Regions from separate parts of the Homo sapiens genome. Here regions 2 and 3 are each linked to region 1. The links come from fine-mapping of genetic effects on gene expression. A gene starts in region 1. Each other region holds a variant in brackets. All regions are shown on one strand. Distances are from middle to middle.

Region 1 (10,323 bases):
TGCACAAACAAATCACCGGCCACCGCTGCTAAGAGGATATAATCACTCAGTACTCTGGGAAGTGGGAAGGAAGGGGTGGGGAAAGTGCCCACAAGCTAGCTTGGGAAGTGGAGCAGCGAAGGCGCAGCCTAACACAGCACAAATCTTCCACAACAGCAGTCTTCATTCCTAAACCCAGAACCGCCAACTAAAACAATAACCCTGACATGCAGTGATGCCAGCTTGCCTCCACCTGGGCCAACCTGGGCTTTAACTACAGGGCTTCCTGCACCCATGAGACCTTCCCACGTGACACAGGGCTTGGCACATAGCAGGTGTTAGTGAGAACGATGGGGTGGGGTTAAGTGGGAGCAGCCTCTACTCTCTGCAATGGTTAACATGTACAAGGATAAACGGCCATGGCGCATACAACTTATTCTCAAATGGTTCAGAAAAAAGCAATGTGTGTGAGTACACAGATATGCACATACACATGGAAGATGAGGGATAAGGCAAATAAGGTAAAATGCCAACAGTAGGGAAGCCTCAGCAAAGGATATGCAGGTGTTCTCTGCACTCACTTTACTCTTGCAACTTTTCCGGGAGTTTGAAATTATTTCCAAATAAAAGTTTTCTTTTTGTCAAGAAAAAAAAGGAAAATTCATTAGCTAGTGAAGGTAGAAAGTATATTACATCACTTTCCAACTAAAAAAAATGAACCTGTTAACCCAAAAGCCAAATCTACCAGTGGACAAACTCTACAAAGTGTCACAGTACTGGCTACAGAGGAAAGCACTCCAAACTCAGGAGGATTTGGCAAGGCTAGGTGCAAGCTCACCTCTCCAGCTACTTCTGAACCTCGGTCACTTTTCCTTGTGATGAAAATATGCACTCTCTCCCTATGCACCAAACCCCTGTGCTACTTCACATGAAAGAAAACTCTGGACTCCAGCCGGGGAGAGGTGGCTCACACCTGCAATCCCGTAACTTTGGGAGGCCAAAGCAGGTGGATCACTTGAGCCCAGGAGTTTGAGACCAGCCTACATGGCCAACATGGTGAAACCCCGTCTCTACTAAAAATACAAAATTATCCCAGCATGGTGGCGTGCGCCGTAATCAAAGTTACTCTGGAGGCTGACACAGGAGAATTACTTGAACCCAGGAGGTGGAGGTTACAGTGAGCTGAGATCCCGCAACTGCACTCCAGCCTGGGTGACAGACAGAAACTCCATCGCAAACAAAAAAAAAAAAAAAAAAAAAAAACAACTCTGGACTCCAGAGCCAAGGTGCTGTGTTCACTTCTCAGCTCCCTGAGATGTGATCAGCTCAGCACAGCTGCCTACTGAAAGCAAAAGAGAAAGAACCCTGAGCTAGCAGCCAGCTCCACCTGGGTCTGAACCCACGCTCTGCTGCTCACCAGCTGTGTGACCTTAGACAAGTCACTTGCCTCTCCCAGCTAGCTGTACCAACAATAGAAGGAAGACGACCTTCTAGTCCTCTACCTTACCAAGGGGCCTAGCTGAGCACAGGCCCTGTACAGGACCAACAACCAGCAGGAAGGGACCAGGGTGCACCAGCATTCAGAAGGCAATTTTTTCTCAGCTATGTATGGTGGGTTCAACCTGGATAGAGCTGTGGCTCATGATATAATTTTGTTTCACAATTAAAGCTAGAAAGAAAAACAGTTTTAGAATCAGCAGTCGATGCTGCCTTCTCTACACAGATGGAGAAAGGGCCAATGAGACAGTATCACAATCAGTGGTCCCCAAATCCCCCCACCATCTCGCTGTCAGTTACCTCAGCAGTAGTCTCCAACCGTTCTTCCTCATCACACCCCCAGTGATCATAACACACATCATCAGTGGTCACATGGCCAAACACAGAAGGGATTTGGCAGAGGGTGAGTGGTTCTGTCCCTCAGACTGGAGTATCCACATGGAAAAAGATTCTGCACCCTCACCTAGAGGACCCTGGGACCTAACAGGGGACAGAGGCAGTCTGTGGCTCCACCTGGGGTTAAGGAAGCTGTTCAGAGCATAATATGAGGTACTCCTGTGGCTGGGCTGGAGACACACAGTTGGAGTGCACAGACCCCAGTCACGGGTGCATGATGGGGGGAAGGCCAGACTCCTACGATGAAATCTCATCTCAGCCTTAGCTTCATGAGTGCTCTGGATTTCAGCTTCCCCATCTTTAAATGAGGCTAAAAACAGCATCTAGCAGGGACCTCTTGAGAGTTAACATATGTTAGTGCTTAGAACAGTGTCCGGCACATGACACATCTTAAATCAAGTTCAAATGTGCACTTAAAAAAAAATTGCTGGGCATGGTACCTCAGGCCTGTAATTCCAGCACTTTGGGAGGCCAAGGCAGGTGGCTCACCAGAGGTCAGGAGTTCCAGACCAGCCCGGCCAACATGGCAAAACCCCATCTCTACTAAAAATACAAAAATTAGCCGAGCGTGGAGGCGTATGCCTGTAATCCCAGCTACTCGGGAGGCTGAGGCAGGAGAATCGCTTGAACCAAGGAGGTGGAGGTTGCAGTGGGCCAAGATCACGCTACTGCACTCCAGCCTGAGCAACAGAGCAGGACTCTGTCTCAAAAAAAAAAAAAAAAAAAAAATTGGTGAAAGGTCAAGTACAGCAAGCACTTGCTGCCCCATAACTCCATGAAAGGCCTTCCACCCTGCCCTGTACCAGAGAGGAAGCCCAGGTGGCTTGGCATCATCTTCAGGGACCCCACCAGGCAGGAGTCAGAAAACACCCTCCTGAGAAGTGGGCTCTGACTGATACCTTCCTCATACTCAAGTATGCTTTTAAGGCCGGAATCCCCACAGAAAGAACGCAGACTAAGACCAGAGAAGCCCCAGCCTCTTGCAAGCACCAGCCAGGCAGATCCCTGCAGCACTCTCAGGAAGGACACATGGTGAATGTGTGAAGAGGCACACACGGGCATACAAGGAACACATCAGGCCCAGAGGCCTGCCCTCCCTGCCCAGCCAAAGCCAGGAAGCCAGCTGCAGCTCCCGGGTTCTGCAGGGCAACTCAAGACGCCTCCAGGGGTAGCTGCAATGTTCTCATCTGGAGAGTCATGGAATCGAAAGAATAAGTTTGCTCCCTCTACCAGATCCACCCCACCCATGCCCTACTCCGACCTCAGTGTGAGGTCTCCTGTGACGCCCTCACTGCTTCACAGGTACAAAAAGATGGCCACCTCCACCCACCTCTGGGACCCCACACTCCAGGGTATTCAACACACAGGAGTGTGACAAGTGACTTACACCTGGCCTCTGTTCCACATCAGGCACTCCTAAAAGGAGGGGCTTGTTCTTGTCACTTGGATTCCCTAGGGATGGGCAGGGGGCAAGCACCCACAGGCACTTTCTCAGTTGCTGCTGGCCAGTTGGCAGGCTATGTGAAAAGGCTGGCAAGGAAAAAGGAGTCGGGGACGTCAGTCACCTCTATCACCCAGGCAGGAGATGCTGGGCCTGGAACCAGAGGCACCCCAAAGAAGCCAGGCATAATATGGCCTCACCTGAGCCCGGTGACCTCATCTGCAAAACTGGGACTCAAGAATCAGAAAACGGTGACCTTCTACCTCTCTACACGTACATATATGTTTTCTAAAGAAGTTAATCACAAGAATCCACAAACCCATTGGTTCTGACCTCCAAGAGCCTATATGATACCCTCCTCCACAGGTAGCCCTTTTCCTGGCTTCTGTTCTTACCAAGGCCACCCCACAACTAGTCATCCCGCTGCCCAGAGAGCAGCCAAAAGCAGTGAGCAACTAGCTCTACATGGGGAGACCAGAGAAGCATCACTGAATCTGTCCAGGTTGAGCACCGGTCAGGGCCTTGGCCACCAGGCAGGCACTAGGGAGGAGGCAGACATTCCACATAGATGACACAAGCGCAGAGCCAAGAGGTGCGGTGTATCTGGGCTGGGAGCCTGGCTAGGGCACAGGAGAGGGCCACACACCCCGTGCTCCCACACCCAGGTCATCAGAGAAGATGGCCCTGGCACTTCTGCCTTCATGGGACCTTTCCTCCATTAAGAAATATTAAGAGTCATGCTTTTTCACTGTATTAGTATAAAGATGACTGTATTAATATACATACGAAAACATTTTATTTGACCTAAAAGTTCATTTTTTTTCTGCTGACTTTAAAAAAAAATAAAATAACATTCGAAGGCTACTAAAAGTACCGTGGGCAAGTGATACCAGGATTCCTGTGCCTGATGGATACATCGGCCCTGCATTTAGGGAGTTTGATTTTTTGGTGCAGTTCAAGGGGAGGTACACCGAAATAGGTAGAAAAGGGTCTCCTGGTTGCCACGGTTCTGATTCCCCACCACAGACTTAAGAACACACTAGCTCCGAGGGGAGTTCCAAAGCACGGACTCATTCATCACATACACGCAGCACGGCTAAGGGCCCCGCACAGTGGCGAGGTCTCTGCTCCCGGGACGCTCGCGCCGGCCACACAACGCTAGGCTGACTCCTGGTGCCTCCTCTAGGCCCGGTGGGACCTGAGGACTTCCTTAGCGCAACGTCTCACTGAATGACAGCCACAACCACCGCTGTCCAGGCGAGGAGTTTCCAGGACTGAGAGGCTGGCACTAGGCCACTGCTGGGAGGACGTCTGTGAAACCAGGTGCCCCTGAGAGCCACTGTCCCCAGCCCGACTCCGACGCTGGACTGGCGAGAGGGTGCGCCCGTGGCGTAGCTCCTGGCCGCCGCCGCTCCCGGGAAGGGCCCAGAGGCAACATCCTGGACAGCAGAGCTGCACGAAGTCCGAGGCGCCGCGAGCCCAGGTAAGCTCCAGCAGGCGTCCGCAGAGAGTGCCAGGCGGCCCGCGAGCCAGGCCCCGCCCGCCCCTGCCCCAGGCGCGGCCCCTGCAGGAGGGCGCCGCGGGTGAAAGGAGGTCCCGGGGCGACCCCGGCCCCGCTCGCCGCCCAGCCCCCACACCGCCCCCATCGCGCGGCGCACCTGGCCGCAGCGGCTCGGTGACAGTGAGCACGAGCAGGAAGAGCAGCAGGAAGGCGCCGCTGTCTGCCTTGGGCACCATTTATCCTCCGTTCATCGTCCCCGGGGCGGCTGGAAGGCCGGACCAGGCCGGACTGAGGGTCAGGGGACCGTGCCAAGCGGAGGGTCAGGCGGAGCTGAACCTGGGCGAGGCGCGGAGAGGCGGCGGGAAAGAGCTTCGGCTGGGCCGCGGGCTGGCGCACACTCTCGGCTGCAACCTCAGGCACCGACTCCAGCTGCGCGCAAGATGGCGGCCGTCCTGCTCGGCTCCGCGCCGCGCCGCCCCGCCCCGCCTCCCGCCCGCGACGCAGGCGCGGGCCAATGACCGTCAAGATGGGGGGCGGGGCCAGAGCCAAAGCCCTCCGAAGAGGGTGAGGCCTAAGGTCGCGACGGCGGAGGGCGGGGACCTAAGGGCGGGGACTGAGGGGCGGGCTCTAAGGGAAGGGCGGGACCATACGGAGTGAGGCGTGCCATTGGTTAAGCAGAGAGGCAGGGCCGGGGCCGGGGCCTGAGCGGCGGGGCCACCGAAGGGAGTAGGGTCTCTGGACGCCGGTTAGGGACGGCGGGCGCGGGACGGCAAGGATGGACATCGAAAGGCGCGGGGCATGGGGCGGGGCGCCGAGGGGTCGCGCGGGTGGGGAGCGGAGAGAACGAAGTGGGAACCTGGCTGGGACTCCAAGGGTCTTCACACCTGCAAGCTCAGGTCCCGTGAGCAGCCCAAAAGTGCGCCCCAAAGGGGTCTTTTTAAGGCCGAACCGCTGTGGAGGAGGGAGGGCCTGCCGGTTCTGAGGGTGGGGAAAGAGGAACAGGAATGGCCTAAGAGAGTGTCAGGCAAAGAGAGACCGGGAAGGCCAGGTCCTGGAGACTGCAGCGAAGCCGGCTCCCTGGAGGACCTGCCTACACAATGGCTAGGGGAAGGCCACATGTGCAGGAAAGAAAGCTAGGCAGAGAGGAGGCTCAGCGCCCCTGCGAACAGTGCTCCAAGTGCCACTTCTCCCGTCATCACCAACAGGGTGAACCTTGGAGGGCAGTGTCGGCGAAGAGTCCAACTCTGTAAAATATTTGAAGACATTTCTTCTGAGCCAATATGTGACCAATAGCCTGGGACACAGCCCCAGGAGATCCTGACAAGTGCCCAAGGGGGTAGGGCCACAGCTTGGTTTTATACATTTTAGGGAGACAAGACATCAATCAGCACATGTAAGATATACATTGGTTCAGTCGGAAAAGGCGGGACAACTTGAAAGTGGGGGGTGGAGGGGGGCTTCTAGGTCATGCGGATTGGCAGTTGGTTCAAAGAGTTTATCTAAAGACCTGGAATCAATAAAAGGGACTGTCTACATTAAGGGGTTGTGGAGACCAAGTTTCTTAGGCAAATGAAGCCTCCAGGTATCAGGCTTCACAGAGAAAAGACTGTTAATGTTTCTTATTAAAAAGTGCCAGACTCTGCCGGGTGTGGTGGCTCACGCCTGTCATCCCAGCACTTTGGGAGGCCAAGGCGGGCGGATCACCTGAGGTCAGGAGTTCAAGATCAGCCTGGCCAACATGGTGAAACCACATCTCTACTAAAAATACAAAAGTTACCCAGGCGTGGTGGCACACGCCTGTAATCCCAGCTACTCAGGAGGCTGATGGCAGGAGAATCGCTTGAACCGGGGAGGCAGAGGTTGCAGTGAGCCAAGATCATGCCACTGCACTCCAGCCTGGGCAACAGAGTAAGACTCTGTCTCAAAAAAAAAAAAAAAAAAAAGGAAAAAAAAAAGGAAAAATAAATAAAAGGTGCCAGACTCTAGTTAATTCTCTCAGGAGAAAAGACCTTGAAAGGGATAGGGATTCTCTACAGAATGTAGATTTTCCCCACAAAAAACAGCTTTGCAGAGCGACTTCAAAATATGTGAAAGAAACCTGTTTTGCAGTAAAATATGTGTTTCCTTCCGGGCCTGCTGTCATGCTGGTATCTTACTGCCACAGAGTCTGTTGTCAGTCTTCAAGTCTCTGTGTCGATGTTACACTGCTTAGCTGTGCCTGAAACCTGAAGGGAGGAGGGATAATGAGGCCTGACTCCCACTTCCTATCACGGCCTGAAATAGTTTTTCAGGTTAAGTTTGGAATGCCCTTGGTGGAGAGGAGGGGTCCATTCAGATGGCTGGGGGGTTAGAGTTTTATTTTTGGTTTCCAGGAGACAGTAGTTGGGGTGTCCCCAGCGGGAAGGAGAAGGAGGCTGTCTGGAAGGAGGAGAACCAAGAATGCACAAAGGCCTGGCAGTGGGCAGTCAGCGTTAGGGAAGAAGGTGAAGGAGCAGAGAAAAGGGGGAAGGGCCACGGCAGGTGGGGACCCAACCCAACATGAGTGACAACCAGCCCGCCCTACCAAGTCATCCTGAGGGGCCCAGGGTTCCACTTGGCTCCTGTGAGAAAGGGGTGCTCACTCCCTCTAGGTGGATGAGGCCAAAGTCAAATCCAAGGCTAGGATAGTCATGTGACTCCTACTCCCCTAGGGCATAGCCCGGAACAAGTGCTGGACACAGAGCCTGGCACAGCAGAGGGGCTCCACTGCCAGAAAAAACAATGGCCACACTCTCCAGTGCTGCCCCTGCTGCTTGTACTGTCCTCAGAGCAGCCACCAGTGCTCAGGGTGGCATCCAGTCCCCGCCTTTAGCCCCCAGCCCCAGATCTGCCCTGGGAGCCCAGCCAGGGGCAGAAAAAAAACTAGTTCATTGAGTGCCAGGGAGCCCTGCCCAAGGACATGGCGTGCAAGATGTTCCACCAACTCTCCTCAGCCATTAAATACTGCCACGACCTGGACATCATGCACCAGAACCTCAAGTGTTAGAACCTTCTCCTCGACAAGGACTTCAACATCAAGCTGTTCTACTTCAGGTTCTCCAAGCTCTGCCTGCGGGATGACAGTGGCCAACAGAGATTAAGCAAGAACTTCTGCGGGTTGGTGGCATATGCAGCCCCCGAGCTGCTGCAGGGCATCCCCTACCAGCCCATGGTGTATGACATCTGGAGCCTGGGCATGATCCTCTACATCATGGTCTGCAGCTCCATGCCTTACGACTCCAACATCAGGAAGATGCTGCGTATCCAGAAGGAGCACCGCGTGGACTTCCCACACTCCAAGAACCTGACAGACGAGTGCAAGGACCTCATCTACTGCATGCTGCAGCCCGACGTCAGCCAGCGGCTGCACATCCATGACACCCTCAGCCAATGCTGGGTGCAGCCCAAGGCACAGGGACTGCCCTCTATGGTCTTCAACAAGGAGGGGGAAAGCTCCCAGGGAACTGAACTCTTGTGGACCCCTGAACCTGGCTCTGCCAAGAGGTCTGCCACCAAGCTGGAGCCTGGGGAACAGACACAGCCCGAGGGACAGCCTGAGACAAAACCTGAGGGGTTGGCAATGCAAATGTCCAGGCAGTCGGACATCCTAGGCTTCCCCAGCAAGCCGTCGACCAGGGAGAAAGAGGAAGGGCCCCCCAGCAGCCTCCAGAGATGCGCACCTAGTGAGCCGTTTGTGGCCCAGTGTGCCAGCGGCGAATGAGATGGAGCTCACGCCTTCAGGCCCAAGCTCTGAAGAAGTCAAGGCACAAACCAGAGAAGGAAGACGGTCCCGGATGAGCCGCTGTTTTCATCAATTTCTTCTCTCTCCCCTTGAACTTCATAACCGACATTGCTAAAGGAGCAATAAATCACTATATTAATGCAGATGCCAAAGTGAATGTCTTTGCCTCAACTGACTAGTCCTGGGCTCCCCTCCACTGGTTTCCCACTCAGATTGTGCAATGATTCCTCGTTTGCTTGGGAAAACACATCCCAACGTGCCCAGTCCAGACCATGACCTCAGGCCCAGGCTGGGGCTGGGGCTTGGGCTGGGGCTGGGAGAGACCTGGAGGGGCAGGGGCCAGAGCTGAAAGGTGAGTGAGGAAGCCGCTGCCTCAGAAGGGACGCCCCCAAGTGCGGTGCTGGGGTCGGGAAAGGGCAGGGAGAGGACAGGACCAAGAAGCATGCCGAGGTACCCCTGTAGAGGAGCGCAGGCTTTATCTGCAGTTGGGACTGAGGGTCTGGGCAGACCTCTCCAGCCCCACAAGGCTGCCAGTGGGGGTTGTGGGAGGCTGCAGAGGGCAGGTGGCCAGCCTCTCAGCCACTCCTGAGCTCCCTACCCTGCTGGGCAACTCGTTCATTGTGCTCTGTCCATCAGAGGCCCCCTGTGTCCAGCCAGCACCCAGCTTTCAACAGTGCCGGGGTCGCCGCACCCTGTGGTCATTCTCTAGCCCGGGAGAAATAGGAGGCTCTGCTGGATGGCCCAGCCACACTCCAGCCTGAGCATGTCCCACAGTCTTGTGTGGTCTTGACCACATCTTGTTGTCCCCGTCCCAGCCTGTCCCAAGGGACGACACCCCTGCATTAGAAGTTGACACTGGCAAGTAGGATACGACAGGCAACCACAAAGGACAAGCGCTTTCAGAATTACCTCTCCCATGGCCTCTAAGTGGATGGGGCCAAAGTCAAACCCAAGGCTAGGACTGTCATGCGACTCCCACTCCCCCAGGGCGGGGCCTGAAGCAGGTGCTGGACACAGAGAATGTCAGAGCAGAGGAGCTCCACTGCCAGCAACATCGATGATCACTGTCCACAGTCTACCTATGGTCACTTCTCTACCTCGGGAAGACCCCAACCTCAGTCCCCTTGGAGAAGTAGGGTCTAGTGAGAGCCTGGACTGGCCCTCCTTGCGCTCTTCCCCAAGTCCACCTGCCTCCTCATGTTCTCACAGCCCCCTTCCACGTGGTTTAATTTCAGGCCTCCACCCCAACCCTCCCACCACCTCCGACAGTGTCCAGAGCCATCCCCCACCAGCCTGGCTCCCACTGCCCAGTGGGGAGGAACCTACCCTGGCCTCTGGGGTCCTCCTGTGGCCCAGTGCATCCTCCCCTGGCCTCTGGGCACCAGGCCTCACCACTGCGCCCCCATCACACACACGGCCCATAATCATACAGGGAACTCGCCCCTGCAGACTCTGTCCAGCTCTCCAGGCTCAGCTGAGAGGCTGAGGCCTCCATAAAGCCTTCTAGGGGTTCTCAGCAGCCTGCCACTGTGTACTCTGCCAACAGGCCTCAAGGAGCCACCCTATTTTTCCCACCAAGAAACTCATGGTGGAGAGGGAGCCCAGAGTGCTGGGATGGGGGCCCGGGTGGGACATCCTGAGAAATGGCTCTTGGGGCCTCCTCCTCAATTATCCCCACGGACCTGCGCTGGTCCTCAGGGCAGTGGCTGGCAAGCAGGTCTGGGAGCCTCACTGTAGCTCAGCCAGGTA
Region 2 (10,323 bases), 37 kb before region 1:
GCTCATGCCTGTAATCCCAGCACTTTGGGAGGCTGGGGGCAGGATTGCTAGAGCCCCGGAGTTCAAGACCAGCCTCAGCAACAGGGCGAGACCTCGTCTCTACAAAAAATTTAAAAATTAGCTGGGCATGGTGGTACACGCCTGTAGTCTCAGCTACTCAGGAGGCTGAGGTGGGAGGATCGCTTGAGTCCAGGGGTTTGAGGTTGCATTCAGCTGTGGTTTCACCACTGTACTCCAATGGGCAACAGAGCAAGACTCTGTCTCAAAAAAAAGAAATGAAACCCCACATCTTATGGTAGCAGAAAGAGTCACCCAGTGATGGAAAGTGAAGAAGGGAATGCGAGTGCCAAGAGAATTCCACCAATCCCTATCCCACTCCCATGCCTATGCCTGATGCCTGCCACCCTTGGCACTCAGAGCCTTCAAGCGCTGAGCCTTTCTGGGAGGCTGCTGGGCAAACTGCTTATTTCTTGTTGTTCTCACTCAAGCAGGCCCATGGTTGCAGCTGCTCTGCTACACCAGGTCAGTTTAACTCTCCCATTGGCTTTTCTTTGGAAAGGAAAAAAGCTGTATAATATGTGAAACATTTCAAAGAATGTATGTAGCACACATGTAAGATTCATAAGCCTAATAATATAGTTGTGAGCGACCTCCCCACACCCCATTTAGGAAATCAAGCATTATTTTGCTTCTCCCAGTCTTATATCCCTCTGTCTCTCCACCAGGAACTAGAATTTTGTGTATCACTGCGCTTATTTTTTTCTTTTAGTTTACCACATGTGTATGTATCTATAAGTAATATAACGATCTGTTTTGCTTCTCTATATTGTGCCATATGTCGTTTTTAGCAACTTGCTTTTAGCTGACGTTCTGTTTTCAAGATTCATCCATGTTGCTGCATAAACCTAACATTCACTTACTGTTGCTGGTGTATAACATTCCATCATGTGAGCACAGACATTTGGGTTGTTTCCAAGACATGTATCAATGGCAAAAATTAAGATGTCTGACAAAACCAAGAGTTGGAGAGGATGTGGATGGCTTGGAATTTTATCTGCTCCTTTACACCCACTCTGGAAAAACTGTACAAACAATTCTGCAAGGATTTTTCCAGAGTTTCCCTAAATAGAAATCCTGGATCACAGAAAATAAGAATGTTCAGCTTTGCAAGATAATGTCTCTATTCCAGAGTGGGTGTAAAGAAGCACATAAAATTTCCACACTATCCATATCTTCTCCAACATTTTAATTTTTGCCAGTCTAAGCATCTGTAAAGTGGTATCTCACTGTATGTAGTCTTAGAATACTAACGAGGTTAAATTTAAATGTCTTTTTCTATGTTTAATCACCATCTACGAAATGCTTTATAGGAGTTCTTTATATACACTGAATTAGAATCCTTATCCTTTACAGGCTGTAAGTGTTGCAAATATCTTCTCTCTACTCTAGCTTGTCTTTTCACAGTCTTTACTGGTGTTTTTTGGGGTTTTTTTTGTTTTTTTTTTTTTGAAACAGGGTCTCACTCTGATGTCCAGTGGTGTAATCTCGGCTCACTGCAGCCTTGACCTCAGGGACTCAGGTGATTCTTCCCACCTTAGCCTACTGAGAAGCTGGGACTACAAGTGTGTACCACCACATCTGGCTAATTATTTCTTTTTTTTTTTTTTTTTTTTTTTCATAGAGACAGGATTTCACCACGTTGCCCTGGCTGGTCTGGAACTCTTGGGCTCTGGCAATCTGCCCACCTTGGTCTCCCAAAGTGCTGGGATTCCTGGCATAAGCACCTGGCCTATTGGTGTCTTTCAATAAACGAGAGATCTTAATTTTAATCTAGCAAATTCAGTCATTTTTATTTTAGAGTGAATATTTTATGTGATTAAGAAAAAGGTGGCCAGAGGCTAGGTATGGTGGCTCATGCACCTGTAATCCCAGCACTTTGGGAAGCCGAGGCAGGCAGATCGCCTGAGATCAGGGGTTCGAGCCCAGCCCGGCCAACATGGCAAAACCCCGTCTCTACTAAAAATACAAAAATTAGACGAGCGTGGTGGCAGATGCCTGTAATCCCAGCTACTCGGGAGGCTGAGGCAGGAGAATCACTTGAACCCAGGAGGTGGAGGTTGCAGTGAGCTGAGATCGCACCACTGCACTCCAGCCTCCAGCCTGGGTGACAGAGCGAAACTCCATCTCCAAAAAAAAACAGAAAAAAAAAGAAAGAAAGAAAGAAAAGAAAAAGGTGGCTGGGCGCAGTGGCTCATGCCCCCGTAATCCAGGCACTCTGGGAAGCCGAAGCAGGCAGACTGCTTAAACTCGTGAGTTAGAGACCAGCCTGGGCAACGTGGCGAAACACCGATTCTACGAAAACATGCAATTAGCCGGGCATGGTGGTGCACGCTTGTAGTCCTAGCTACTCCGGAGACTGAGGTAGGAGGATGGCTTGAGCCCAGGAGGCGGAGGTTGCAGTGATACAAGAACGTGTCACTGCACTCCAGCCTGGGTGACAGAGCCAGACCTTGTCTCAAAAAAAAAAAAAAAGAAAAAGAAAAAGGCACACTTCCCTATCAAGGTCTTAAAGATAGTCTCCTATAATTTATCCAAAACTGAATTTCCTGTATGTTGTGAGTTAGGGATCCAACTGCATCCTTCTCCGACTGTCACAGCACTGTGTTTGAAGAGTCTGCCCTTTGCACAGCGATATGTAATTCCACCTCTGGAATTCAAGCTTCTTAGGTCTGTTTCTGACAGCTTCTGTCTCACTGGCCAATTTGGATTTCCCTGAGCCAATTTTGAAGTAAATCTTGATACGGGCAAGGCAAGTGCTCCCTCCTCATTCCTCTTCTTCACAACGACCTCTCAATACTACGACTTAATTCTTCTCAACATTTTAGAATCGACTTATCGCATTTCACATAAAACTCACGGAGCTTTAAAGATGCACTGAATCCACAGAACAATATGAGTTTTTAAAAGATTCGGTCTTCCTAGGCAAGAACATTCTGCCACTATTTACTTGTCTTCTTTAATGTCTCTTAATAAAACTGCAAATTTTTCTCCCTCAAAAATTTTACACATCTTTTGTTAATTCTCGTTTATATCAAAGATGGTTCCCCTCTCCCTCTCCCTCTCCCCCCTCCCCCTCCCCCTCTCCCTCTCCCCACGGTCTCCCTCTCCCTCTCTTTCCACGGTCTCCCTCTGATGCCGAGCTGAAGCTGGACTGTACTGCTGCCATCTCGGCTCACTGCAACCTCCCTGCCTGATTCTCCTGCCTCAGCCTGCCGAGTGCCTGCGATTGCAGGCGCGCGCCGCCATGCCTGACTGGTTTTCATATTTTTTTTGGTGGAGACGGGGTTTTGCTGTGTTGGCCGGGCTAGTCTCCAGCTCCTAACCTTGAGTGATCCGCCAGCCTCGGCCTCCCGAGGTGCCGGGATTGCAGACGGAGTCTCGTTCACTCAGTGCTCAATGTTGCCCAGGCCGAAGTGCAGTGGCGTGATCTCGGCTCGCTACAACCTCCACCTCCCAGCCGCCTGCCTTGGCCTCCCAAAGTGCCGAGATTGCAGCCTCTGCCCGGCCACCACCCCGTCTGGGAAGTGAGGAGTGTCTCTGCCTGGCCGCCCGTCATCTGGGATGTGAGGAGCCCCTCTGACCGGCCGCCCAGTCTGGGAAGTGAGGAGCGCCTCTTCCCTGTCGCCATCCCATCTAGGAAGTGAGGAGTGTCTCTGCCCGGCCGCCCATCATCTGAGATATGGGGAGCGCCTCTGCCCCGCCGCCCCGTCTGGGATGTGAAGAGCACCTCTGCCCGGCCACGACCCCGTCTGGGAGGTGAGGAGCGTCTCCGCCGGGCCACCCCGTCTGAGAAGTGAGGAGCCCCTCCGCCCGGCAGCCGCCCCGTCTGAGAAGTGAGGGGCCCCTTTGCCCGGGAGCCGCCCCGTCTGAGAAGTGAGGAGCCCCTCCGCCCGGCAGCCGCCCCGTCTGAGAAGTGAGGAGCCCCTCCGCCCGGCAGCCACCCCGTCTGAGAAGTGAGGAGCCCCTCCGCCCGGCAGCCGCCCCGTCTGGGAAGTGAGGAGCGTCTCCGCCCGGCAGCCACCCCATCCGGGAGGGAGGTGGGGGTCAGCCCCCGCCCGGCCAGCTGCCCCGTCCGGGAGGGAGGTGGGGGGTCAGCCCCCGCCCGGCCAGCCGCCCCGTCCGGGAGGGAGGTGGGGGGTCAGCCCCCGCCCGGCCAGCCGCCCCGTCCGGGAAGGAGGTGGGGGGGCGCCTCCGCCCGGCCAGCCGCCCCGTCCGGGAGGTGGGGGGCGCCTCTGCCCAGCCGCCCCTTCTGGGAAGTGAGGAGCCCCTCTGCCCGGCCACCACCCCATCTGGGAGGTGTACCCAACAGCTCATTGAGAACGGGCCATGATGACAATGGTGGTTTTGTGGAATAGAAAAGGGGGAAACGTGGGGAAAAGATTGAGAAATCGGATGGTTGCTGTGTCTGTGCAGAAAGAAGTAGACATGGGAGACTTTTCATTTTGTTCTGTACTAAGAAAAATTCTCCTGCCTTGGAAAAAAAAAAAAAAACAAAGATGGTTCCACTGGGAAAACAGAAACCATGCTAAGGGATTTCTAACACGAAGGGTTTAATACAGAAAATAGGTGCTTTCAAAACAACTGGCAAGGCTATATAGTGTGAGCAAAAGTAAAGTGGGCTAACTCCCCATCTAATTCCCACAGTCATTGTCAAGAGTCAGGAAGCTACTACTGCCATCTATAGGTTAGGAAACTGCAAAAATCTGCTGCCAATACTGCAGCTGCTCTGCAGCCCTGAGACAGCTGGCCAGTGGGGGAAGGCAGAAGCCACTGCAAAAAGTCACCTCAAAAATCTAAGCCCATGCACACCCCCAACATACACTATGGCCTGAGGAAGAAAGGTTCCACCTCCCTTCCACTTGCCACATTTCCCAAGACACATGTCATAGGGCAAATGACACACAGAAGCCTGCTGCCAGGTGGTTCTGAGTGCTACTGCTCCAGCATTCCAGCCTCTGAAACCCACGGACAAGCCCAGAAGGGAGTGAGTGGGAAGGTACTGAATGCCCAGGCTGTACCTAGCATGTCATTTCCCTCTTTTCAAAAACATGCAGAAATTACTGATCTACTGTTACATCTTTCCCCTTTTTTTGTCCCTTTGGTTTTACATTTTTTATACTCCTTTTTAGCAGGCTTTTAGCAGGGCAATGAAGTAACCCCATAAGGTAACTCCAGAAGTCCTGAAGTCTAGTTCAAAAGCAACTTGACTGAGAATGGCCCAGGGCTTCCCTAGGGGTTACTGAAACTCTCCTCATACAAAGGAAGGTCACAGCTTTTGAGCAAGGGTGGTTATTAGCTAACTCTCTACTTCCCCCACAAACACAAAGAGTTTCCTTTTTTGAGAGGGGAGGAGGTTGGGGGAAGGGAGAGTGTCAATGAGGACTTGACTCTATATCTATGATTTTTTAAAAATTTCTTTTAAAATAAACTAGAAAAAAAATCACAAGATTTAGCAGTCATTAATTCAAG[G/A]AAGTAAGAAAATACGTATTACACATTCTTTGTACATTTTTATGACTTAATTTGCTCAGAATCTCAACTTTAAGAACAATTAGAAATCAACCTGCTTGGCCGGGCACAGTGACTCACGCCTGTAATCCCAGCACTTTGGGAGGCCGAGGAGAGCGGATCACAAGGTCAGGAGATCGAGACGATCCTGACTAGCACGGTGAAACCCTGTCTCTACTAAAAATACAAAAAAAATTAGCCGGGTGTGGTAGCAGGCGCCTGTAATCCCAGCTACTCAGGAGGCTGAGGCAGGAGAATGGCATGAACCCGGGAGGCAGAGCTTGCAGTGAGCCCAGATGGCGCCACTGCACTCCAGCCTGGGCAACAAAGCGAGACTCCATCTCAAATAAAAAAAAAAGAAATCAATCTGCTCACCCTCCAGACTGTGACACAGCACTATACAAGGACAATCATAGGACCGTGAGTCAAGGAGAAGCAGGGTGAGCCTTGTCAGGGCAGTGGCCTCCTCAGCCCACCCAGAACACTCCTAGGCCCTACCAAGCCTCAGGGGGCTTGCACACACGGGTCCTCATTGTCATGCCTTCACTGCTCAGCCCTGGTGCAGGCCACCACTCGTAACTTTCGGCTTCTATGAGAGATTTTATTTTTCTGTCTAGGGAAAACATATGGCAACCAATGTAACTTCAAGCCAATACTCAAGTGCAAAGTTGATGCCTGCTCCATGCCAGGCCATGTGGTCAAGAGAAATAAAACCTACTCCTTGCCTTCAACAAGTCTTCAGAGCGTGGAAAGATGAACAAGGTGGCAACTATGAGTGTGGATACCACTATGTTCAGCGTGTGTAACAGGACAGTTATTACAAACAACTACAAAAGCAAAGCCAAATGGCACTTTGAGAACAACAAATAAACTCTGCTTCCATTTGAAAGCAAACCAAGAATCATCTGGTTCTCTCTTCAGGAATTCTCCAAGAGGCTGGATATAAGGTCTCACTCTATGAGTCAGACAAGGGGAGGCTCCCACTCATAACCACATGGTCGTCCCCAGGCTGACCAACCAGGGAACTTCAGCAGCCCAAGCACTGGGAAGCCCACTGGGAATCCACTTTCTCTGGGCTTTGACCCCAAAGACCCACCAGAGAGGCTCCCAGACAAAGGACTGTCCCAGAGGCTCCTGACCGGGCCAACACCATCCAAACCCTCATTTGGAAAGGCAAACACCTCTACCAGAGACACGCATAATCTGATGAAGAATGGGCTCCAGAGATGATCAGGAGGGGCCCCCTCTAAACAGCATTCTTTTCTTTTTTTTTGAAACAGAATCTCACTCTGTCGCCCAGGCTGGAGCGCACTGGCATGATCTCAGCTCACTGCAACCTCTACCTCCTGGATTCAAGTGATTCTCCTGCCTCAGCTGGGATTACAGGTGCTCGCCACCACGCCCAGCTAATTTTTGTATTTTTAGTAGAGATGAGATTTCACGATGTCAGCCAGACTGGTCTGAAACTCCTGACCTTAAGTGATCCTGCCTGCCTCGGCCTCCAAAAGTGTTGGGATTATAAGGCATGAGCCACTGCACCTGGCTTTTTTTTTTTTTTTTTTGCCTTTGAGACAGAGTCTTGTTCTGCAGCCCAGGATAAAGTGCAGTGGCACAATCTTGACTCACTGCAATCTCCTCCTCCCAGGTTCAAGCAATTCTTGTGCCTCAGCCTCCTGAGTAGCTGGGATTATAGGTGTGCAGCACCACACCTGGCCAATTTTTGTATTTTTATTAGAAACGGGGTTTCACTATGTTGGCCAAGCTGATCTCAAACTCCTGGCCTAAAGCGATCCACCCACCTCAGCCTCCCAAAGTGTTGGGTTACAGGTGTGAGCCTTCGCACCCTGCCTAAACAGCATTCTTTACAGGCAAATACAATCTGACCAGACCATCTCTGCTTCTTATTTTGGAACCCCCCCTCAAAGAACTACCACAAGTTCAAATGTCACCTAATCCCCTACCTAATACCCTGGTTGGAATGAATTGGTTTTCCTTCAGTACTAAGCCTATAGGAATTACAGCACACCTTTCATGTCCTAGGCCAAGTCCCACTAAGGAAGGAGAAAGGTCTCTGCCCCCTGGGAACTCATGGTCTGGATGGAAAAATCAAGCCTGGGCACCAGGAATGGTGAGAATTACCAATGGTTCTGATGCTATAAGAGAGGGACGAATGGGGGACTGGAAGAAGCCAATCTATAAAATGAGGGACCACAGACATTCTCCCACTGGGGTAACATCTGAGCTACACCTTGAAGGATGGTAAGGCTTGTCTATGCAGAAACAGAACAAGAGAATTCCAGGAAAACATAAAGGAAGCACACATCTACAAGATTATTAATGGGGTGGGCACAAGAAACAGCCCAGCTGAGCCACTGAAGGGGAAGTAGTGATAAATCAGGTTGGCAAAGCAGACCTAAACCAGCTTGTGAAGGAGTCTGCATGTCTGGCCAAAGCATTTAAGCCTGTGATTCTCAAGCTGGGGTAAGACACACTTTCCCCTTAGTGGCTTTATCAGCACCACCTAGTCTTAAAAACGAATTCATGGATACATGTATATGTATGTCTCACACATTCACACACACATGCACAAGTACTCACTACACCTCCCACCCAACCAAAGTTGAGAACAACGGATCCAGTGAACATTGTTATTCATGGGGTGCCCTGTATTCCTTGAGGGTGCTGAGGCAGAAACCAGGTGAAGAACCTGGTTCTCCGATTTAGCCTTTTTGTGGCCTTTCCATACATCTTTAGGAGACTACATAATGGCCAGGAGAGAACCTGTGAGTGCAAAGTTCCAGGTGAATGAGTGAGCAGGAGGGGAGGGCGTGCCAAGGCCAGTCTAAAAGAGCACATTCAGGATCAAGAGGCACCCACATCCAGAGCCAGGATGGGGATAAGGTCAGAGAGGTGGCCAAGGTGCCACCCCTCAGGAGGGGTTCACACTCAAGATCATCCAAGTCCAGGGAGTGCAGCGCCTCCTTAAGTGGAGCCTCCTGGGCATCTCACGGGCCTCCCCACAGCCCTGCCATCTTGCAAGTTCTGGGATCTGCCTAGGTTGGGCACTTATTTTTTAAAAAGACAGAAAGACAGAGAGAGAGGAAGGGGTCGGCTCAAACTAACTTTCCAATGTGTTAAGACAGCACACACCTCCACCCCTCACAAGAGGCACAGTCACCCAGCTACAACAAAGAGACAAGGTGGTGTGTACCCCGCCTACTCAACACACTCACCTGGACAGTTGGCTTCGTCGCTCTCATCCTCGCAAGTCGCCCAGCCGTCACACTGCCAGGGGAGGGGGATGCACTGGATGGTGCCGCTGCGACACGCAAACTGCCCAGGGTTGCACCGCAGCTCTGTGGGACCAAAGGGTGAGAGGCCATTGAGGAAGTGGCAGTAGGCCAGCAAACCATAGCCCATGGGCTGGATCAATCTCTTCCCATTTGTTTGTTTGTTTGTTTTTGAGACAGAGTCTCATTCTGTCACCCAGGCTGGAGTGCCAGTGGTGCAGTCTCAGCTCACTGCAACCTTCACCTTCCGTGTTCAAGCAATTCTTGTCCCTCAGCCTCCTGAGTAGCTGGAATTACAAGCATGTGTCATCATGCCTAGCTAATTTTTATATTTTTAGTAGAGACGGGGTTTTGCCATGTTGGCCAGGCTGGTCTTGAACTCCTGGCCTCAAGTGATCTGCCTGCCTCGGCCTCCCGAAGTGCCAGGATTACAGGCATGTACCACTGTGCCTGGCCCCCATCTGTTTTTAAAATCAGGTTTTATCAGAACACAGCCACAAATATGTATTGTCTATGGCTGCTTTCAAGCTACAGCAGCCGAGCTGAGTAGCTGCAGAAAAGACTATATGGCCTGCAAAGCTGAAAACATTTAATGCCTGGCCCTTTACGAACCTATTACCTAGAGATAAAAACTGTAACACTTAAGATGAAAAGTACGCTGCAGAACATTAACAGGTTAGATTTTGTAGTAGAAAAGATTAGTGACTTGAAGATATAATAATAGAAACACTCTGAACTAAAACACAGAATGAAAAAATACCAGGAAAAAATGTGCAAATCATCAGTAAGCTGTGGAACAACCTCACACACCCTAATACATGGGGGAACAGACACAACATCTGAAGAAACAATGGGGAAAATTTCCCAATTTGATGAAAACTATAAACCCACAAATCCAGGTAGCTCAATGAACCACAAGCACCAGAAATACAAACAATACAATTCCAAGTCACATTGGAATTGAATTGCTTAAAATCAGCGATAAAATCCTAAAAGCAGGCAGAAAAAGAAGACATGCACAGAAAAACAAAGATCTAGATGACAGCAGATTTCTCATTAGAAACGATACAGCCTAGAAGACAGTGATGTGACATGTTAAAGTTCTGAAAGAAAAAGCTGTTGACCTACAATTATTTAAAGCAAACACACAGATACTGTATTGTGCAGTTTATAACATACACAGAAGTAAAATTTTGACAATAGTAGCACCAAAGGTGGGAAGAGAGAAACAGAAGCACACTGTTTTAAGGCTCTCAAACTACAGGTAAAGTGGTCCATCACTTGAAGGTAGTCTATGATAAGTTAATGATGAACCCGACTAAAATAACACAAGAGTTGTGGCAAGTAAGCCAACATAGAAGAGAATAAAAAATAATCCAAAAGAAGGAAAAAAAAAAGACAAACAGATGGTACAAATGAAAACAAAGGGTAATATGGTAGATTTTAATTAAACTTGCCTAATCAATAA
Region 3 (10,323 bases), 90 kb before region 1:
GGCAGCTGGAGCTGGCTGAATTTGAGGAACTTCCCGGAGGAACTGGAGAGCAGACCTGTGTGCGCGCCCCGCTCTGCCACGTTCCCTGAGGGACACACTGCTTTGACCAGCCCCCACCCCATCTCCTCTCCGCCAGTCCCCGGTGTCCACCCCAGCCCCGCTACCGATGAAGCTCAAGCCAGGGTCCCCATCACCTGCTTCACGGCCATCCCTGCACTTGAGCTCAGGGGCTCAGGGTTGTGCTGACACGCCTGCCTGTCCACCCCTCACCGACACCTCTGCAGTCCTCCTCAGGGCCCAACAGGACCCCCAGGACCCCGCTCCCATTCTGCCCTTGCTCCTGCCAACCTGTCTTCTCTATGCCCATGACTTTGGAACCCTCTGCCACAAGTGCCAGCCCCCACATCTGTAGCCCCTGCAGGAACAAGCCCTAATCTGGACTCATTGCAATGGCTCAGCTTCTCTTCCAACCTGTCCATAAACCTCCAGGCAGAGATCACAAAACTAACAGCTCTTTCTGCAAATCTGGACTCTCTCCTGCACCTTCTTCACCGTCCAGGCCTCCCTGTCATCCGTCCTGGGGACCTCAGAGATCTCTTCATTTCACAGGTGAAGACTTGGCTCAGAGAGGGCAGAGCCCCTGGGTCACACAGCCCGTCTCCAGTAGGGCTGGGGAAAAGAACCCAGGGCGCTCTTGTTGGCAGTGTTTTAATGACTGGGGGGAGGGAGAGAATGGCTAATGAGGCTCTAGGGATCAGCACAGCCAGCTGCTGGAGGTCCCAGAGGACGGGTGACTCAGCAGGAATGGGGGAGTCTGAGGGGTTGACAGAGTGCCCAATTCTCACCTCCTCCTGCACCTTCCAGAGAGACGGGCTGCAGGGAGTGATTGAGTGGATGAACATGACTAGAGGGACCCAGTCTTCTCCTCAGCAGCTGCTTGAGGACAGTATTAGCGGTCCCCTCAATCCCCCCCCCAACACATGCACACATGCACTGACCTGCAGGGGCCAGATCCCGGTGGACCCGGGGACACAGCTTCCAGGGGCTGTCTTGCCATGTCCCTTCCCAGATCTGCCTGGATTCATGCCAGGCCACCCTCCACAATTTGCTGAGGGAGGCCCCAGAGTCCAGGGCACCCAGAGTGCTAACTAGCCCCTGGGGGTACAGGGAGAACAGCATGCTGTGTGGGGGATACTACTCTCTGCCCATACCTAGGGCCCTGTGGCGGCCACAGGCAGCACTGCTTATGCAGAGGCACTGGGGTGAGAAGGAGTAGGGTGCAGTAGTGAGGGCTCCACAGAGGGTGGAAGGGCTGCAGGGGAAGGCAGACCAGCAGGGATGCCATGAGGGCCTCAGATGCCAGGCTGCAGAGGTGGACGGGCTGGCCAGCTCCTCTCCCCAGCCTCCTACTGTAAAATGGGAGAGGATCCCAGCCCTGCTGATTCATCCACTCACTCCATGGCAAGACAGCCACTGACAGCTCTGTCCTGGGGCCCACCCGGGCCTGGCCTCTGTGCAGGCTAGCACTCAGTATGCTTAGTGCCACACTCGGCCCAGGAGAAATGACCCAGCCCTGGGCTCAGAGACCCCACAGTGGGTGGATGGAAAACAGTCATTTAAATACAACTGTGAAGGGTGCTGTGGAGGAGGGGCTCGAGGTCCCCAGTGTGGGATGGGGTGGTCATGGAACGTTTCCCTATCTAAGTGGGAAAAGTGAGAGCCACCAGGAAAATGGCGGGGGTGGGGGGGGAGAGGAATTATGCAAAGACCCAGAAGGATGAAGAAGACTGTTGGATTAGAGGAGGTTAAAGACACAGACAGGCTTGGACATGGTGGCTCATGCCTGTAATCCCAGCACTTTGGGAGGCCAAGACAGGAGGATCACTTGAGGCCAGGAGTTCAAGACCAACCTGGGAAACACAGTGAGACCCTATCTCTACAAAAAAAAAAAAAATTAAAAAAAATTAGCCGGGCATGGTGGTGCACAGTTGTAGTCCCATCTACTCAGGAGACTGAGGTGGGAGGATCGCTTGAGCCCAGGAGGTGGAGGCTGCAGTGAGCTATGATTGCACCACTGCACTCCAGCCTGGGCAACACAGCAAGATCCTGTTTGTAAAAACAAAACAAAACAAAACAAAAAACCCAGCTTGAGATGGCCAGGGATTTCCAGAGGCCCTAGGCAGACCGCCTTGGAGAGTAAGGGAGACCCTGAAGAGCTCCCATGGAAGGGCCAGCAGCCTGGGGCTGGAGATGCCACCTGGATGGATTCCTCCAGCTGTGTGGACTAGGGGACAGGGTGAGGAGATAATGGCCTGGACTACATGGAAGGACGTCGCCCTGAGCCATTGAAAAGGGCTGTGGGGTCCATGACCACTCCTGGCTTTCCCTTGACTATGATGGAGACAGTAGCTTCCAGTGTAAAATGTGAGCTCAGTTCCTGACTCGTGTCTAGCGGGTGGTGCCTGGTCTTTGGCTGGCGATGCTCCATGTCACCTATGCCCAGAAACTGGGCCATGCCCTTTGTGAGGACCTGCCCACAACGTCGTCGTTCCCGCAGGGTCCCCTGGGAACCGGGCTGCCCGAGACCCGGCCCTGCCGGGGTTCCCTGCGCCCCAGACCGGAACCCCCAGGGCTTTGGTCGTTCCCACAGCCGTCCCGCGGGCCCCCTCCACGGTGCGTCGCCTGGGCCCCAGCGGTCGCTAGGCTGCAGCCTGGGGCTCCCGGCCATCCCGGGCGCTGGCGGCGGTGGAGGCAGCAGGGCGGATGGCGGAGCCCGGCCGCCCGTGGGCCCAGGCGCGTAGTGCGTACAGAGCCAGCGAGGTGCTGCGGCGCGGCACGGGCCGCCGGCGGGATCCGGGGCCGCAATCCAATGGGCCGGGCCAGGAAGACGCCCGAGCCCCGGGCCGGATGGCTCGCCTGCGCGGCCAGCTCCGGGCCGAAGCGGCTTCGCGGTCCGAGGTGCCGCGGCTGCTGAAGCTGGTGGAGCGTGCGGGGGCCGGGGCGGCCGGGCGCGGGCGAGAGGACCGGCGCGCACAGCCGCGGGCTCCGTGTGCTCGGTATGCGGGGAGCCCCGCGGCGGGGCCACCTACCCGGCGGGGGTCCTGGAGGTGAGCGAGCGGCGGCTGCAGGAGGGCCTGGCGGCAGTGCGCGAGGAGCTGGGCGCCGGGATTGAGGCGCTGCGCGCGGAGCTTCGAGCGGAGCTGGATGCCCTGCGCGCGCTGCTGCCGCCGCCGCCGTCCCCGCCTGCCCGCCGCGAGCCCCGCGCCGTCCCCCGCGCCGCGCCCCGCGGCCCGACCCTGCCGCGGACGCTCGGCACCGTGAGCGCCCTGGTCGCCGCCTCCAGGCCCGCAGACGACGCCCCGGACGGCCCAGCAGAATGCGGAGCGCACCGAGCCCCGGCCAGGAAGAACCACAAGAAGATGCCAGTGCCGCCTGGGGCCCCGCAAGGTGGCGGGGACTGAGGGCGGCCGCACAAGGGCAGCCTAGGCGAGGTGCGGAAGGCGTCGCGCTGGCTACTCTGGTACCCCCAGGACGGGGCAAGTGAGCAGATCGGTCCCCCTCGTGGAGCGTGGCTCTGAGTCAAAAGGGTGCCCGGGTGCCGCCAGTTAGGGCTCCGGTACTGGAAGGAGGGGGTGGGCCACGTGCGTCTAGGGAGTGCAGCTGGCAGCCGGGGTCCTTGCCAGAGACTGAGTCCGGCTAGAGAACAGGGTGGAGCCCCTTTGGACCTTAGAGCTGGGCCTTTGGGCCTTGGGTCTGGGTGGGCCTTTGGGCCTTGGGTCTGGGTCAGCCTTTGGGCCAGGGCTGGGTCAGCCTCCAGGGAACAGCCGAGACTCCTCTTCCTTGGGGTGACTGCAGGTTCTTTTTCTTGCAAGGTCTCAGTGAGGAGGCAGGGTCTCCACGCACTGGAATAGTGTCAAACCACACACAAGAGCACAGAACCCAGGGACACAGGGCGGCTGAGACACTCAGCTGGTGATGGTCCTCAGGATGGTGTCAACCAGTATGTAATCACATTCCACAGGGCACCAACTGGACAGAGGCCTCCGGTCAGCCTCACTCTGACTGCAACCCCCTCTCACTGGACAGCATCACCTGGACACAGAGCCTCACCTAGTCTGTGTCCCATGGACACAACTTTGCTTTGGACAGTGACACCAAGAATACTCACCCCTTTACTTAGCCAGACCACAGGCAGCCACCTGGACACAAACATCTCTCCAGAGTCA[G/C]CCTCCACACAGACTCCACAGCAGAACTCCCAGGGAGGCACTGGGGCATGGCTTCAGAGCACCAGGCAGCGCTCCGCGGTGCCTAGCACCCGCTCAGCCAGGGCAGCCTGCAGCGGAGCTTGGAGCCAGCAGCTTCTCATCTCTTGGCCTCGGGAAATGTAGCTGGAGTCATCATTTAGCAGAGCACGGTGTCCCTGGGTTGGCCACCCAGCTTAGTTTTAAAATAAAATAATGTAATCTTGGCCTAATGGTGGAATTTCTGACTGCTAGATGTTCTCCTTCCATCTGACCAGGGGATTCAGACACAATGTATAGGATGAGGGTGGGGGCCCTTCTCCCTCTGAGAGGAACCTGGAGAGGCCCGGGTTCTGCTGAGGTAGGAGAGGGTCACTCAGAGGGCTCCCACGGAACAGACAGGCACACTGAGGCCTCAGTGGGATTAGGGCAGGAAATGCCCCTCTTGCAATGGGGGACCACGCCGGGTCACGCACCCACCCCCTCCAGGCTACATTAGGCTAAGGTCACTCTGTGCATTATTTCATTATTTCACATGGAGGGTCGCCCACGGTTGACAGAACCACAGGCTGAGCCCCAGGCCCATCAGAGCGCAGTGCACAACTGCTAGGGTGGGGGAAGAGCAGGGGGCTGCTGCGGGGACCGAGGCTCTCGGAGAGGCCAAGACTGCGTGCCCCTTAAGAGGCTGCTGTGGGCCGGGCACGGTGGCTCAAGCCTGTAATCCCAGCACTTTGGGAGTCCGAGGCAGGCGGATCAGGAGGTCAGGAGATCGAGACCATCCTGGCCAACACGGTGAAACCCCGTCTCTACTAAAAATACAAAAAATTAGCCGGGCCTGGTGGCGGGCACCTGTAGTCCCAGCTATTCAGGAGGCTGCGGCAGGAGAATGGCATGAACCTGGGAGGCAGAGCTTGCAGTGAGCTGAGATTCCACCACTGCACTCCAGCCTGGGCGACAGAGTGAGCCTCCGTCTCAAAAAAAAAAAAAAAAAAAAGAGGCTGCTGGGGGCGGAAGTTACCCGTGAGCGGTATGGGGTGAAAGTGGGAGGGTCCAGCCTGGGGCAGGGTGTAGAACAGGGTCATCTGAGGGTGCAGGGCAAAGAGATCAAAACGGGGTGGGAGAGGGGCAGCGCCTGCGGGAGGAGCCAGGCAAGGCCCGGGGAGGGGTGTGGGGGGCGAGGGGGGACGGTGGCTCCACCTGCACCCACCGGATGGGTATGGGGTCCTCGAAGACGGTCCAGAGCACCGTGGGCTCGCAGTCAGGCGGGGTCAGCGACCCAGCGAAGCGACAGTAGCTCGAGGTGTTGGGCCGCATCGACGCCAGCGGGAAGGTGGACATCAGATTCACTGAGAGCCCCGGGCGGCAGAGGGAGGGGGATTGGAACCAGCCTCCCTGTGCCCTGCTGGTGCCATCCCCAGCAAACCCCCCGCCCCTGAGCCGGAAAACGACCCGGTGGCTCCTCACCTGGCTCAGGCACCTTCCTCAAGCCCGACACTATGGCGCAGAAGTTGGTGTTGCTACAGTCCTGCTCCTGGGAGGGGCTCCAAGTGCGAGGGGTTCTGAGTGAGGGAGTCTCTGAAGAGGGAACTCAGCTGGGGTACTCTAAGCAGGAGGCTCCCAGTGGCAGGAGGCATCTGGCATCTGGGAAATGGGGTGGAGGGTTCTCGCCGCCACTGGCCCTGCCGATTCAGGCATTCCCACCGCCCCATCCTCCCACAGATCCTATAGACCCTAGAGATCCCCCCACGGACTCCACAGGCCTGGCCTGTCCACTTCCAGGATCCCCATGGACCCCTTTTTTGGAAACATACATAGAATCACAGCCCTGCCTTCACCGCCAGCAGCACCTCCAGCAGCAGGGCCTGCACTCGAGCCCATCACCGTGGCGTGGTGCCTCCTCCATGCTCTGGTACTTTGTGTTACTGTGGACCACGTGCATCTGGGGGGAGGCACAGATGTGGGAGATACCCAGCTGCCCTCACCTTGCTCTCTCTCACCTCCGTGGGAGCACTCCGGCCACCCCACCTTGTTCCCGAGTCTACCTCCATAGCCTGGCGCTGCCTGTCCAGGCTGTGCTCCGAGTCTGCTCGCCTCGGGCCCCCCCACCGCCGGCAGTTGAAGTGCAGCTGCAGTGCGCGGTAGACAGGCAACAGCAGCCCAGCCTCCCAAATCTCCAGGTGGTTCTGAGGATCAGTGTCCATTCAGAGTAGCAATGAAGGGGAGGAGGCACACGACACCCTCTCTACCTCACCACCTGTCCATCTTGTGCCATTAGGGCACAGGGTATGAGCAGAGGCCCTTCCTCAGGCCAGGTTTCTCCCCAGTGCGGCCCCATTGCCTCCATGGAATGGAACCCATGGTGTCCATGGCTCCTGCTGGTCAGCAGAGCAGAGCTCCACAGACTGCAGGGGAAACCCTTCCCCCCCCCACACCCAGCATGGCATGGAAGAGGGCAGAGGGCAGCCCTCCTGGTGTGGGGCTCTAAGCCCAGCTGTGTGTGGTCAGGGATCCTGGCCCTGCCAGAGACCCTGACTCCTGGTCCTCAGGGGCCATGGCTGGTTGTGATTTGTAAGGTGGGACCTGGCACCTACACAGAGGGTGCATCTGGACTGCTGTGTGAGGATGCTCCTTTCCTCTGAAGCTAGCCCCTGTGGAGGGTTTTTGGCCCTGTAGGTTGTCTCAGCTCCCGTGTGTAGGGGGTCCTGGTCCCTGTGTACACGCAGGAGCTCTCATGCCCTGTGTGGGGCTCCTGCCTCTGCCTAGGAGGGGTCCTGACCACAGGGTGCTGACTTGTGTGGCTGTCATTCTCCAGGGTCCAAGGGCCTGGAGGTGCTGAGTCATAGCCTCGGAAGATGAAGGGCCCTAGGGTAGAGTTCCGCCGGACCCTGTGAAAGTCAATGTTGATGAGGGACTGGCCTGGGCCCCCACAGGCAGGGGGCCAGCTTCTTCCAGTGGGTGGGGACTGCTGGAACAAGGACTGGGGCCTTTGGGGTGGGGGGGGGGTCAGGGAGGCAGCCTGGGGGTGCAGCAGAGAGTGGCCCCCATACACCCAGAGGATAGCCCAGCCTCAGGAAACCTAGCTCCCTGCTTCCCCCACACCTGAACAGGTCACAGCACCCCCCTTCTCTTGTACCCTGCATCTGACCTATCCATCTAGTCTCCCAGTTGGCTGCCCCATGGTGAGATGAAGGTGGAAGGGTCTCCGGCACACAGTTGCACACCCACACTGGGACCTCTATCACCTGCACACACTTGGGCTGGCCACAGTAACGGGCACACCAGCCTTGACTGACTCGGGACCGGCAATCACAGCAGGCCCAGACTCACACACAGGGGGACAGTCACGCACTTGCACCTGATGCCCAGTCAGTCTACTGGGGCAGACGACTACAGACAGAAACCTGCAAAGGCCACAGAGTGCAGGGTGCAGACTGTCTCTTGGCCACTCTTGCACCACTGGCACATGCTCTGGTGGTCCCAGGACACAGACTGATCTGACACAGCCTCACATGACACTCTGTCCTCACCATACTTGAGGTCCTGGGAGTCATAGCACCAGGCACCTATAGAGACAGTGGGCAGGAGGCTGAGCTGAGAGGCCAGTCATCTGGGCCCTCTCCAAGCCCCATCCCATCAGCTGGGGTCCAAGAATGAAGTAGGTCAGGGGTTTAGGCCAGGGGAGGCCAGTGAAGAACCTTCTCTCCTGTCACCCCTACCTCAGTATTTTCTCTCCCCAGTCCCTCCCCACTCCCAGTGGCAAGACCTAAGGGGTGGTGGAGCATGGCAAGAGGGTAGATTGGAGGCCAGACAGGAAGAGTCCTGGTGCTCACTCTCAGAGTCTGCGCCACACCAGCTGCACCGCAAGGCGAGCATGATGCCAGGGGCGTGCGTGGCTCAGTGGCAGCCGCAGCTAGGAAGGACTAGAAAGTGGCTAGACCACGCAGCCAGGATGCTGGCCTGGCTACTACATATTTATTCATTAGCTAGCTGGGCTAGGGGCGTGGCTACTGAGGAGAGGATGGGAGGGGTCGGTGCCCAGGCAGGGCCACCAGGAAGAGCGCGAGCGCTCCAAACTCACCCAGGTGTGCTCTGGTCCCAGGGCTGCACTGATGCCAGCAACAATCGCTGAGGTTAATCCTGCAGGGGAGGGGTGACCTATTATTATCCCCACTTACAGTCCAGGAAACAGAGGCTGGGGACCAGAATGACACACCAAAGCCACCAGCAAGAAAGGTCAAATAGTGAGGGCACCTTGGACCCCAGTGCCCATGACTTTCGGGGCAAGGATGGGAGGAAGGTGTAGGATGTCTCTTGCCCCACTGTGGGCCCGGAACTGCCACCCCATCCCAAGACCACAGCCTCCCTCCTACCCAGGCCCCCCTGCGGATCCAGGCCAAGACGGAGCCCTGCAGGAGGTCAGAGGAGGGGACTTCTTTGCACCCTGCGCCTCTTTCCAATCGCCAGAGGGCAGGGCCCTACCCACATTGGGGATGGGAAGACAGCCCCTACCCAGAGGCAGGGCTCGGGGCTCTGTCCAGAGTGCTGACAGTGACCTGTGTGCTCGGGACTCAACACCACCACTCCACTCCTGCCCCAGCAGATGGGATAAAAAATGAGGGGCCACATCCTCGAGGCTCCCATCCCTGCCAAGGGACTTACCAGTTCCTTTCCTAACCCTGACTCCTCTCGTGTCCGGCCGCAGGACGTCCCCCCAGTATACACATCTGGAGTGCCCCCAGAGCAGGGCATGCAATCACACTTCCTGGGCCCACTACCCTCTGAGACCTAGAGATGGCACTGCTGGACATGAGTGAAGAGGCCCCAGAGGACCTAGGCTACTTTGTAACATTAGGTGGCTTGGACTGGAGGGAGGGGCTGTTTCCAGCCACCCGGATGATGAGGGGAGCTTAGAGGAAATGGCGCTGACGGCCAGGTTCCAAGCCCTGCCCTACCACCCCGTCCCATGCTAGCTCCCAGATGGTGTCAAGCAGCCTTGCCTTTATGTGGATCCTGTGCACGTCAGCAACACCTGCCAAGGCAGCAGCCGATGCCCCAAGCAGGGCTGGGTGCTGCAGGATAGCTGTAGGCAGCTCAGGGCTGCTGCTCTCCCTGCACACTCCACCTAGGGGCTCCAGGCTCAGCTCTGCCTGGTCCTCAGGGGGTTTGATGGACGCCTGCAAGGGCTGCAAACCCTAGGTGCATTCTGCTGAAAGGTGGGTACCCAGCCTCTTCCACCTTAGCCTGTGGCAGCCGTGGGGGCCACACCAAGGACTAACCATGCCTCTTCCGGAACACAAGTTTATTTGGCATTTGGATGAAATGATTCTCACAGCATCTTAAGAAAAGTTAGTGTCAACCCAACCAAAAACTAAAAACCCTTAATGAAAACATAAAAAAACAGGCATCAAGACAATGTACAGTATCAAATCCCACCTCCGCATGGCAGGTCAGAGGGCACCTGGGCTCTGAGAAACCGTGGCAAGCTGGTCCTAGAGGAGGAGGACCCCTGGAGCACAAGGTTCAGCAAGGGTGACCCCGGGACTTGCTGGTCAGACTGGGGACTGCAGCAGGCCTTGCAAAGGGGGCATTCTGGATGGTGGTGCAAGAACAGATGAGCGAGTCCAGCTCTCCTCATGCTCCCAAGGGCCTCCTGGAGCCACAGTGGCAGCGGTGTTCCAGGCAGCCCTGCCATGTGGACCTTCTGCCTGGCCCAACGTGCCAGTGGCCTGAGTGCTTGTGGAGGCCCATGGGGAAGGGGCCACCCAGCAACCCCGGCCAGCCCAAGGCCCACCCTCTGCAGCCTGCATGGTCCACTTTACCCCGTTTCCTCACTGCCCCCTACGTGTCTGACCGGCCCCTAATGTTCCTCTGGTCCCCAAAGGAAGCGTCCCAGTCCCACACATCTCGTGCCAGCCACCCTGTCCCGCACACACAGTTCTGAGGCCTGGCAGGAATCCTCTGAGCTCTCAGGCTCAGGCCCGTGGGGGACTCTGCTGCGTGGTCCTCGGGCCCTCACTGGCCACCTGGCACCCATAATGCACATGCCTGCTGCTCTGGAACCTGGCTGCCCTGCCCCAGTGCA

The links. PIP is the estimated chance that this variant, and not a neighbour inherited with it, causes the effect.
Region 2: its variant is the best candidate, but not a certain one, in a credible set for the expression of DGCR2 in whole blood (INTERVAL, PIP 0.55).
Region 3: its variant is the best candidate, but not a certain one, in a credible set for the expression of DGCR2 in whole blood (INTERVAL, PIP 0.69).

Annotation. Positions count from the first base shown.
Region 1 is chr22:19,117,157-19,127,479 of GRCh38, forward strand. It overlaps DGCR2 (DiGeorge syndrome critical region gene 2), which reads right to left and starts at 5,256. Exons shown (of 10, transcript NM_005137.3): 1 at 4,972-5,256. The coding sequence starts at 5,050. It also overlaps the pseudogene TSSK1A. RefSeq lists an enhancer at 4,615-5,116 and silencers at 4,901-5,020, 5,141-5,580.
Region 2 is chr22:19,080,570-19,090,892 of GRCh38, forward strand. DGCR2 (DiGeorge syndrome critical region gene 2) reads right to left here. Exons shown (of 10, transcript NM_005137.3): 2 at 8,799-8,921. Among named protein-coding and RNA genes, the nearest start is that of DGCR2, 37 kb to the right of the region's middle. RefSeq lists enhancers at 5,473-5,974, 5,975-6,474. The variant G/A (reference allele first, on the strand shown) is at 5,530.
Region 3 is chr22:19,026,761-19,037,083 of GRCh38, forward strand. FAM246C (family with sequence similarity 246 member C (gene/pseudogene)) reads left to right here and starts at 2,764. Exons shown (of 3, transcript NM_001396027.1): 1 at 2,764-3,004; 2 at 3,006-3,040; 3 at 3,042-3,461. The coding sequence starts at 2,764. The coding sequence ends at 3,461. DGCR5 (DiGeorge syndrome critical region gene 5) reads left to right here. Exons shown (of 6, transcript NR_110533.2): 6 at 4,022-4,482. DGCR2 (DiGeorge syndrome critical region gene 2) reads right to left here. Exons shown (of 10, transcript NM_005137.3): 10 at 9,526-10,323. It also overlaps the pseudogene CA15P1. RefSeq lists a silencer at 9,259-9,428 and an enhancer at 9,912-10,323. The variant G/C (reference allele first, on the strand shown) is at 4,227.